2 linked regions of the Homo sapiens genome follow. The protein of the gene in region 2 interacts with the protein of the main gene of each other region in a pairwise test. Each region holds a gene or a part of one and is shown on either strand. Other genes may lie near its edges.

Region 1 (3,952 bases), on a different chromosome or scaffold from region 2:
GGTACAGAAATTTCACAGCAAGGCAGGATCACATTTAGCTGCAAGGTGGGGCGGGGTAGAGGGGGGAGCTCGAGAAGTTTCCGCTGGCAGACATGCTGTCTTAGCGGATCTTTTCACATGGGCAAGGGAAGGCTTTTAGTTCGAGGATTGTTCGGCTCAGGCGCTCACTACTGTCGCCCCTCCCCCACCTAATCCGAGCAGCAAGACATTGTCGCCGAGGTGTGTTTTCTTTTAAATCAAAGTCTTGGCCTCGGCGCCAACGGTGTTCACTCGCCGTGCATCAGACACTTCCCTTCACCCCCTTTCCAGGCCCGGTCCCTGTCCCACAGCGAGAGTCAGATAGAGGGTCCAGGAGGTTCCGGAATGGAGTGCCGGCCACAGCGGTGGGGGCCAGCCCTGGCCACAGTCCAGTTTTCCACCGGCGGAAAGAAGACGAGTTAGAAAATAAAAAATAAAAATAAAATAAAATAATTTTCCCCTCCCCCCGCCCCCAAAAGGGCCCGGTCTGCAGGTTACAGCAGAGGATTTCCCGAGAAATACTGCAGCCGGTCTCTGCTCAGTTTCTTTTCTTTCATCCTTCTGTTCTGAAACCAAATTTTCACTTGTCGGTCCGTCAGGTTCAGCATCCGGGACAGCTGCAGCCGCTTCTCTTTGTTGATATACACGTTGAAGAAAAACTCTCGCTCCAGTTCCCGGATCTGGAATTTCGAATAAGGGCAGCGCTTCTTGCGGGTGCGGGGGGCGTCTGGAGGGAGGGGAGGGGGCAAGTGCGAGGAGAGGGGGGAGAGAGACACGTGAGACCCGGGCGACCCCAGCCCGCTGAGCGCTCAGCGGCCCTTCTCCTAGCCCACCGCGGGCAGCCCTCCCGCCAGGCGGCTGGCTCTCCTGCAGCCGCAGCACCCGGGCAAGCCTCGACCCCCTGCCAGGTCTAGCGGGTCCCCACCCCCCCGCCACTGCGCCACCCCGTCCCCAGTTCTCAGGCGAGAGCCGCGGCTGACAGGGTCTGGGACAGAAGGAAAGCCCTCCAGGTACACGTGCGTCCCCTCGGGCCCCCTGTCTGCTCCCCCTCCGCCCTCGGGCCCTTCCTGGGCCGCCCTCCTAGTGGTTCGGAAAGCCCAACCCCTCCCCCAGAAATCTGGGGGGAAAGCTGAGAACAGGCGCGAAGCAGTGAAATCTGGCGAGAGCAGTCGGGAGGCGGGGAGGAAGCCGGCCAGCAGGCACCGAGACACCAGAGAGCCGCTTCCGGGGCCCTGGCGCCCCGGGAAGCCCGCGGGGCAGCGCCTTCCACACCGCAGTTCTAGGCAAGCACTAAGGCCGCGGACCCGGGAGAAACGCCCAGACCCCCGCCTGGAACGCAGTGGAGTCCTGCGCCGCCTCGCCCCATTCCCCTGTCGCCGCTGACCCCAGAGTTGCTTGGGTTTCTGCTCGAGGACCCGCGAACACATAGTTTGAACATTTTCAAAACTAGTTTTAAGAAGGATCATAGCGGTCCTGGCTTGCCTCTCCGGTCTCAGGTTCTGCTCCATTGCTCCTCTCCCCCACCTCTCCCCCTCTCTGGATCTCTCCCTGTCTTTCCCTCGCCCTCCCCTTTCTCCCCCTCCACCCCTCCCCTCCTCCCCACTCCTCGGCAGCCCGGCTCCCCATACTTCCTTAAATGCTCCTCTAAGTTCACGATCAAAGTTAATATCGCCCGCAATGGTTGCGCTTTTAAAAATTTCACAGACCGAGGGAGATAACGGGGGAGGGGGGTTCACCCGGCTTTTCCAAAGAGCCCTTTTCCCTCCCTCCCCACCCCTTCTCCATCGTAAAAAGTCGAGTCGTTGGGAGAGAGGGCTTTGTAGGTTATAATAAAATCCTTTGAATGCTTATAAAACTCCACATAAAATCGGACTGACCCAAAACACGAGGCCGTCCCCGCTCCCCTTGCCTCCCCCCTTCTCTCGCCCTCCCTCTCTCGCTCCCTCCCTCGCTGCCCGCCCGTTCCCCGGCCGCTGCTACCTACTGGGGGCGGCTCCTTTGGCCGGCTCCTTGGCCACGGAGTGGGCTGAACCGGACGAGCTGGGATTTGTGTTCTCCTCCTCAGCCTCCGCCTCGGCACCCGCCTCAGCCCGGGACGCCAGTCCCGAGGCCGGGGGTGCCTCGGGCTCCCCCTTGGCCTCGCCCTTGCCGGAGCAGGGGGGCTCGGCGGGCGGGTCGCCGCCACCGCAGTAGGCGTTGTCGAAGAAACGGTCGAAGGCTTGAGGCAGGACGCTGTTCTTGTTGACTGAGGAGTAGAAGCCGGCGGGGGTTGCGTGCGGGGCGCTGGGGTGGTGGTGGCCGCCGTAGGAGCCTTCGTTTTTCATGAGGATCTCGGTGACGGTGGAAGGAGGCAGGCACTCCCGGTGCATAAGCTCGTCGGCCGCCGCATAGCAGGAGGAGTAGCTGTTCCGATGGTGCCACTTGCCGGATGGCTCCAGGCCGTAGGAGACCTCCCGGACCGGGGGCACTTGGGCCGAGTAGGGATAGGAGATCTGACGAGAGGGGGCCTGGGGCAGGAAGGAGGAGACCGTGGAGAACTCGGGCATGTAGTAAGTGCAACTGGGCAGATAGAGGTTGGAGGCGCAGCTCCCTCGCTCGCCGAAATCTGCGCCCCTCTCCTTGCGCGACGGAGAGCAGAAGTTGCCCAGGTTGACCGAGTTAAACATCGTTCTCCTCTCCTGCCGGCTCCGGATGGAGGTTTTGGACCCGGTCTAGCGAGGGGGGAAAATTTGGGAAGGCGAGATGACGCGTTATCCGTCTTAGTCTCTCTCTCTCTGAGCACGTGATCCAAAGTAGATATTGTCATATATCAGTTCGGAGCACTTCGCAGACGTAGGAGGGGTTCTCTCTTAGGTAAGATCGGGGACGTTCAGGCGATTGGTTTGCAAACACCGCAGAAACATTATGAAAATCAATTGCAGATTTGTATTCGTTTTTCTCTCGTCACTCCCCTTCTCTCCATACCACAGCACGAGCAAAGGAGGAGAGAGAGGGTTGGGGTGGGGTGGGCGGTGGGATGGGCGAGGGTGGTGGCTGGGAAGGGGTAATTGTATTTTTTTCTAGCTGCTGCTCTTTTTTCCCCCAGGATTGGGGGAAGGAGGAGGGCTCTCATGTATGGGGGTCTTGCCTCCTCTCTGTGAGCAGCACCAGGAGGGTGGGAGTGAGGACTTCTTTCCCCACTGCCTGATTTCCCCAGAGAAGTGAATCCTTTCCCTTAAATCTCAGGGACTCTTACCCTTCCAACCCGCAGAGACACCGCCTGTTCACAAGAGTTTGAAGAAGTCCACTCTTTTCCTGGCCAGAGCTGGGTGTCAAGACTACCTTTCTGGAGTCCTTAGAGAGACTCCCGGAAGAGTATCTGAAGTTTCCCAAAGGTGAGGCAGCCCAGCTGCAAGCCAGTGTCCCAACTTTGTCTGGCTTGCTGTGCTGCCCCTGGCTAGGGAGTCAGATTAGTCATAAACGAGTGGTGAGCAGTGCGCCAGCCGCCCAGCCGGTGCCTGGCGAAGTCTGGGAAAAACCTTCTCTAATGTTGTGTTAAATATTTAGTATGAGAGAGTGGCCCTGGGTGAATATTTCATGCCTGCCTTTATTGTCAATCAATGTGAAGAAAGCTACATCCACTGTGGATTTTCAAATCCCAAACCCCAAAGAAAAGGATTGGAATGAGAGCCATGTATCTTCTATGTCAGGGCCCTTTGGCTTAGTGGCTCAGCCTCAGCTAGTGCGCTGAAAAGAAGCCTAGTGTAGGGGTCCAGGAAGAATATGGTGGGGGGGACTAGGTTTGGGGTTCTTATCCTTGGATGATTTTGAGGACTGTAAGGTGGGTGGTGGGGCCAGGTATGGGTCTCCAGAAGAGACTAACCAGACAGTGGAAAGGAGCGGTGGATGCTGTGGCATCAGGGGAGGCCCAGCGGCCACTCCCTAGTCAAAGCCC
Region 2 (3,387 bases):
CTTAAACCCTTTACATGTATTAGCTTGAGTCACATAAAATTGCTAATATTTGGCTTTTCGACCTACAAAAATGGTAATTTCACATGGCTCATTTTATATTTATTTCTTTAATCCTTGAATAACCCTAGAGATAAAGGTGGAGGGCTGCTAGAAATGCAAAGAAAAATCAAGTGCCACCGCCTCACAGCGCCCTGCACCCCCGCTCCCAGTCCAGCCCTTGGCCTTGCCCTCACACCCCTCCTTTCAATGTCAGGGTGCACACAGGGCAAGGGATTCTTCTCTGTCCGTCCCAAGATGCCTTAAGAGGTAGCATCAACCAACCCCCTGAGTGCTGAAGGTAGGACATGTGGCCTTGCTGTAACTCAGCTGGAGTCATTTCAGGGTCTTAGCAGGTTCCCCATAAATGAAAGCTGACAGAACACCTTGGGTACACCAGCTTGGGTACAACCCCAACTGAGTCCCCATCCATGTCCCCCCATGCTGGCACTGAGGCAGGCACATTCAACAGTTTTATGTTTATTTTCAGAAAGTGATGAAGACAAAAGGAATATATCCAGACACCACTCTCAGTACAATAAATAGCCTCCCCCATTCAAAAAAAATAAAAAGAAAGAAAAAGAAAAAACACACACCCACACACAACCACCACAAACAATATCTTGCTTCTTGAGATGTGGGCCATTCCCCCCTTTCCAGCCCCTTTTCTCTGATCCCCACTGTGTTTGAGCAGGGGGAGCCCAGGCCAGCTGTCCAAAGTCAGGTGAGTCCTTTCCCTGACCCTGGCGGGCTGATGGTTATAACATACGTGTATTTGTTCTTTTTGGATCAGGGATTAACACACATGCCAACGAAAAGGTTGAAAGTTACTGTACAAAGGAAGAAAGTGGAGTCTCCTGCTCCCATGTCCCACACCTGACCCCTCCCACCCACTAGATGCAAAAAGCTCCTTCATGCCCAAGACTTTCTTGTCTTCTTTTCTCCAGCTGGAAACCAAAAGCAAGACGCAGCACCAGGTAAACGACTGTAGTTAGGGCAGAGGATGGGGCAAGGGGACACCCCTCTCAGGTTTCATCGTGGGCCAGGAAGCATCTGGTGAACCCCAAAATCCTTCTTGAGCCCCACTTCCCCAACCAACTACTAAACAGAGAAGGGCCAGAGGGAGCGGGGGCCTTCTCAGTCCTTCATCCGTTTCCCAAATTAGTCGGTGTCCTCCAACCTAATAACACTGTTTCTGTTCCTTTCATCATGTCATCTGCTCAGTTGGGAAAATAGTTATAAAACTGTCCTTCAGCTTCCTTATCAAAAGGAGAAGGGGCCCCAGCAGGGGAGGAGCTGTCACCACTGGAAGGATAGGGGGACACGCGCCTCCTCTTAGAGTCTCCTTCGCCCAGTCCTGAATCACTGGATTCCGGCCGGATGGGGGCAATCTCAGTCCACACCAAGGGGGGACCCTGGTCCTCTGGTCCCCGTCCCTCTGAGCCTCCAGGGCCGGGTTCCATGGGCAGAGTCCGCATAGGGCGGAACCAGCTGGCCGGGCCCATCTTGGGAGGGTACTGGGGTGCCACAGGCCAGCCAGCTCCAGGTGCCAGGACCTCCTGGCCTCGGTAGTAGGACATGGTGGGCCCAGGGGCAGAGGGCAAGAATGCAGGCTTCATGCTGACTGCTCGAAACTCAGCCTCATAGCTGTGGTCCCGGGGGGCCCCCAGCCAGTAAGCCTGGGGAACCACATCCTTCGCCTGGCCAGGAAGGTCGGGGTAGAAGCGGCTGGGAACAGGATACTGGTTGGGTAGGAGAGGAGAGTAGTGATCTCCCCCAAGGAATTGACAGTTGGGTCCAGGCGGGGAGGGGATGCTGGTGTCAACAGATGTGTACATGCTAGAAAAAAATAGAAGGCAAGAAAACGGGTCACAAGCAGAACCAGTCACCTGTGAGCCTACCTGTTTCACACATTCCTTCTCCGACCCTCCTTCCCTGGCCTGCCCACCTGTAGCATCTGTCCCCCACCCTCCTGTTTTCAGGGGCAGGGAGAGGATGTGTCTCAGGAGGGACCAAAGCTGAGTTGAACCCAGTGGCACTTACGACTCAAAGTTCTCCCGGAATCCTTTGGCAAAGGGGTTATTATCAATTTTCAGCTGAGTAATCTAGAGAGAAGGGAAATAGAGTCACCTGAGTCCTGAGTCTGGGGCTCGGGAACTTTCCAAATCCCTCCCAAGGAAGACAGTGGGCCCCACTCTGCCCTCCTCCCCACCGGGGCTCAGGCAGCCCTCACCTCGGCATTCTGGTAGGCAGTCACGGCAATGAACTGGGTTTCTTGGAAAGTAAAGATATGCGTGTTGGAAGCGTTGCAGGCTGCCTCTGGCTCTCCGTCGTTCACCTCAACGATATGCAGCCGGGGCTGGTACTTATGGAGGGACTGGAGCACAATCATCTGTAGACAGAGCAAGACGGTTGTAGGGGTGGGGAGGAAGGATTTCGAGGATCCCATCACCCCCACCAACAGCTGGCCCCACGTGAGGCTAGCAAGCACCTTGAGGTCATCCTGTCCATTCCCCTGCTCTGCCACCATGTAACTTCCCCCAAGCTTTCCAACTCCAGTGTCCGGACTCTTTGGGGCACCAATTCTAGCCTCTTGCCCCCTCTTCTACCTCCAGATGTCAATTGAGACCAAGGTATCAGCACAAACAGGGCTTTAGGGCAAGGGCACTTTTTTTTCTTTTTTCTTTTTTCTTTTTTTTTTTTTTTTGAGACGGAGTCTCACTCTGTCACCCAGGCTGGAGTGCAATGGCATGATCTCAGCTCACTGTAACCTCTGCCTCCCGGGTTCAAGCGATTCTCCTGCCTCCGCCTCTTGAGTAGCTGGGATTACAGGCACCCGCCACCATGCTTGGCTAATTTTTGTATTTTTAGTAGAGACGGGGTTTCATCATCTTGGCCAGGCTGGTCTTGAACTCCTGACCTTGTGATCCACCCGCCTTGGCCTCCCAAAGTGCTGGGATTATGGGTGTGAGCCACCACACCCAGCCAGCAAGGGCACTTTTAACAGGATTGTTCAACCTAGAGAAACTCGGCATCTATTCCCTGGGACCACAGGGCCAACTCTGTGCCTTTCATGGTGCCGGAGCAATGGCAACCCATGATTTGGTGAAGAAACCCTGAGGCTGGGTTGGCCTGTGTGGCCTGAATATGACCCCCGTCCAAGATTCAGCTTCATCCCATCTCATCTTCCTCCCAAGGTGGGTGAGAAACAGCCAGAGTTTAGGAAGGAGGAAAAATGACCCTTCGTTTAGGACAGAAGAAAAACGAACCTTCCTTCCTGTAGGAAGGAAGAAAAAATGAACCAAACTGGCCCCGCAGGACCCTTGTGGCCTTGGAGGTCTCAGACCCAGG

Evidence for each region.
Region 1: the proteins of TBX21 (region 2) and HOXC11 interact in a two-hybrid assay, tested with the Homo sapiens proteins (one large-scale study listed by BioGRID and IntAct).

Annotation. Positions count from the first base shown.
Region 1 is NC_000012.12:53,971,974-53,975,925, reverse strand, and holds the start of HOXC11 (homeobox protein Hox-C11), read right to left. Parts: upstream 2,801-3,952; 5' UTR 2,685-2,800; coding exon 2,003-2,684; intron 1,029-2,002; exon of another isoform or gene 972-1,028; intron 746-971; coding exon 513-745; 3' UTR 1-512. UniProt on the Homo sapiens protein: Sequence-specific transcription factor which is part of a developmental regulatory system that provides cells with specific positional identities on the anterior-posterior axis. Binds to a promoter element of the lactase-phlorizin hydrolase gene.
Region 2 is NC_000017.11:47,743,236-47,746,622, reverse strand, and holds the end of TBX21 (T-box transcription factor TBX21), read right to left. Parts: intron 2,429-3,387; coding exon 2,270-2,428; intron 2,142-2,269; coding exon 2,080-2,141; intron 1,876-2,079; coding exon 1,257-1,875; 3' UTR 501-1,256; downstream 1-500. UniProt on the Homo sapiens protein: Lineage-defining transcription factor which initiates Th1 lineage development from naive Th precursor cells both by activating Th1 genetic programs and by repressing the opposing Th2 and Th17 genetic programs.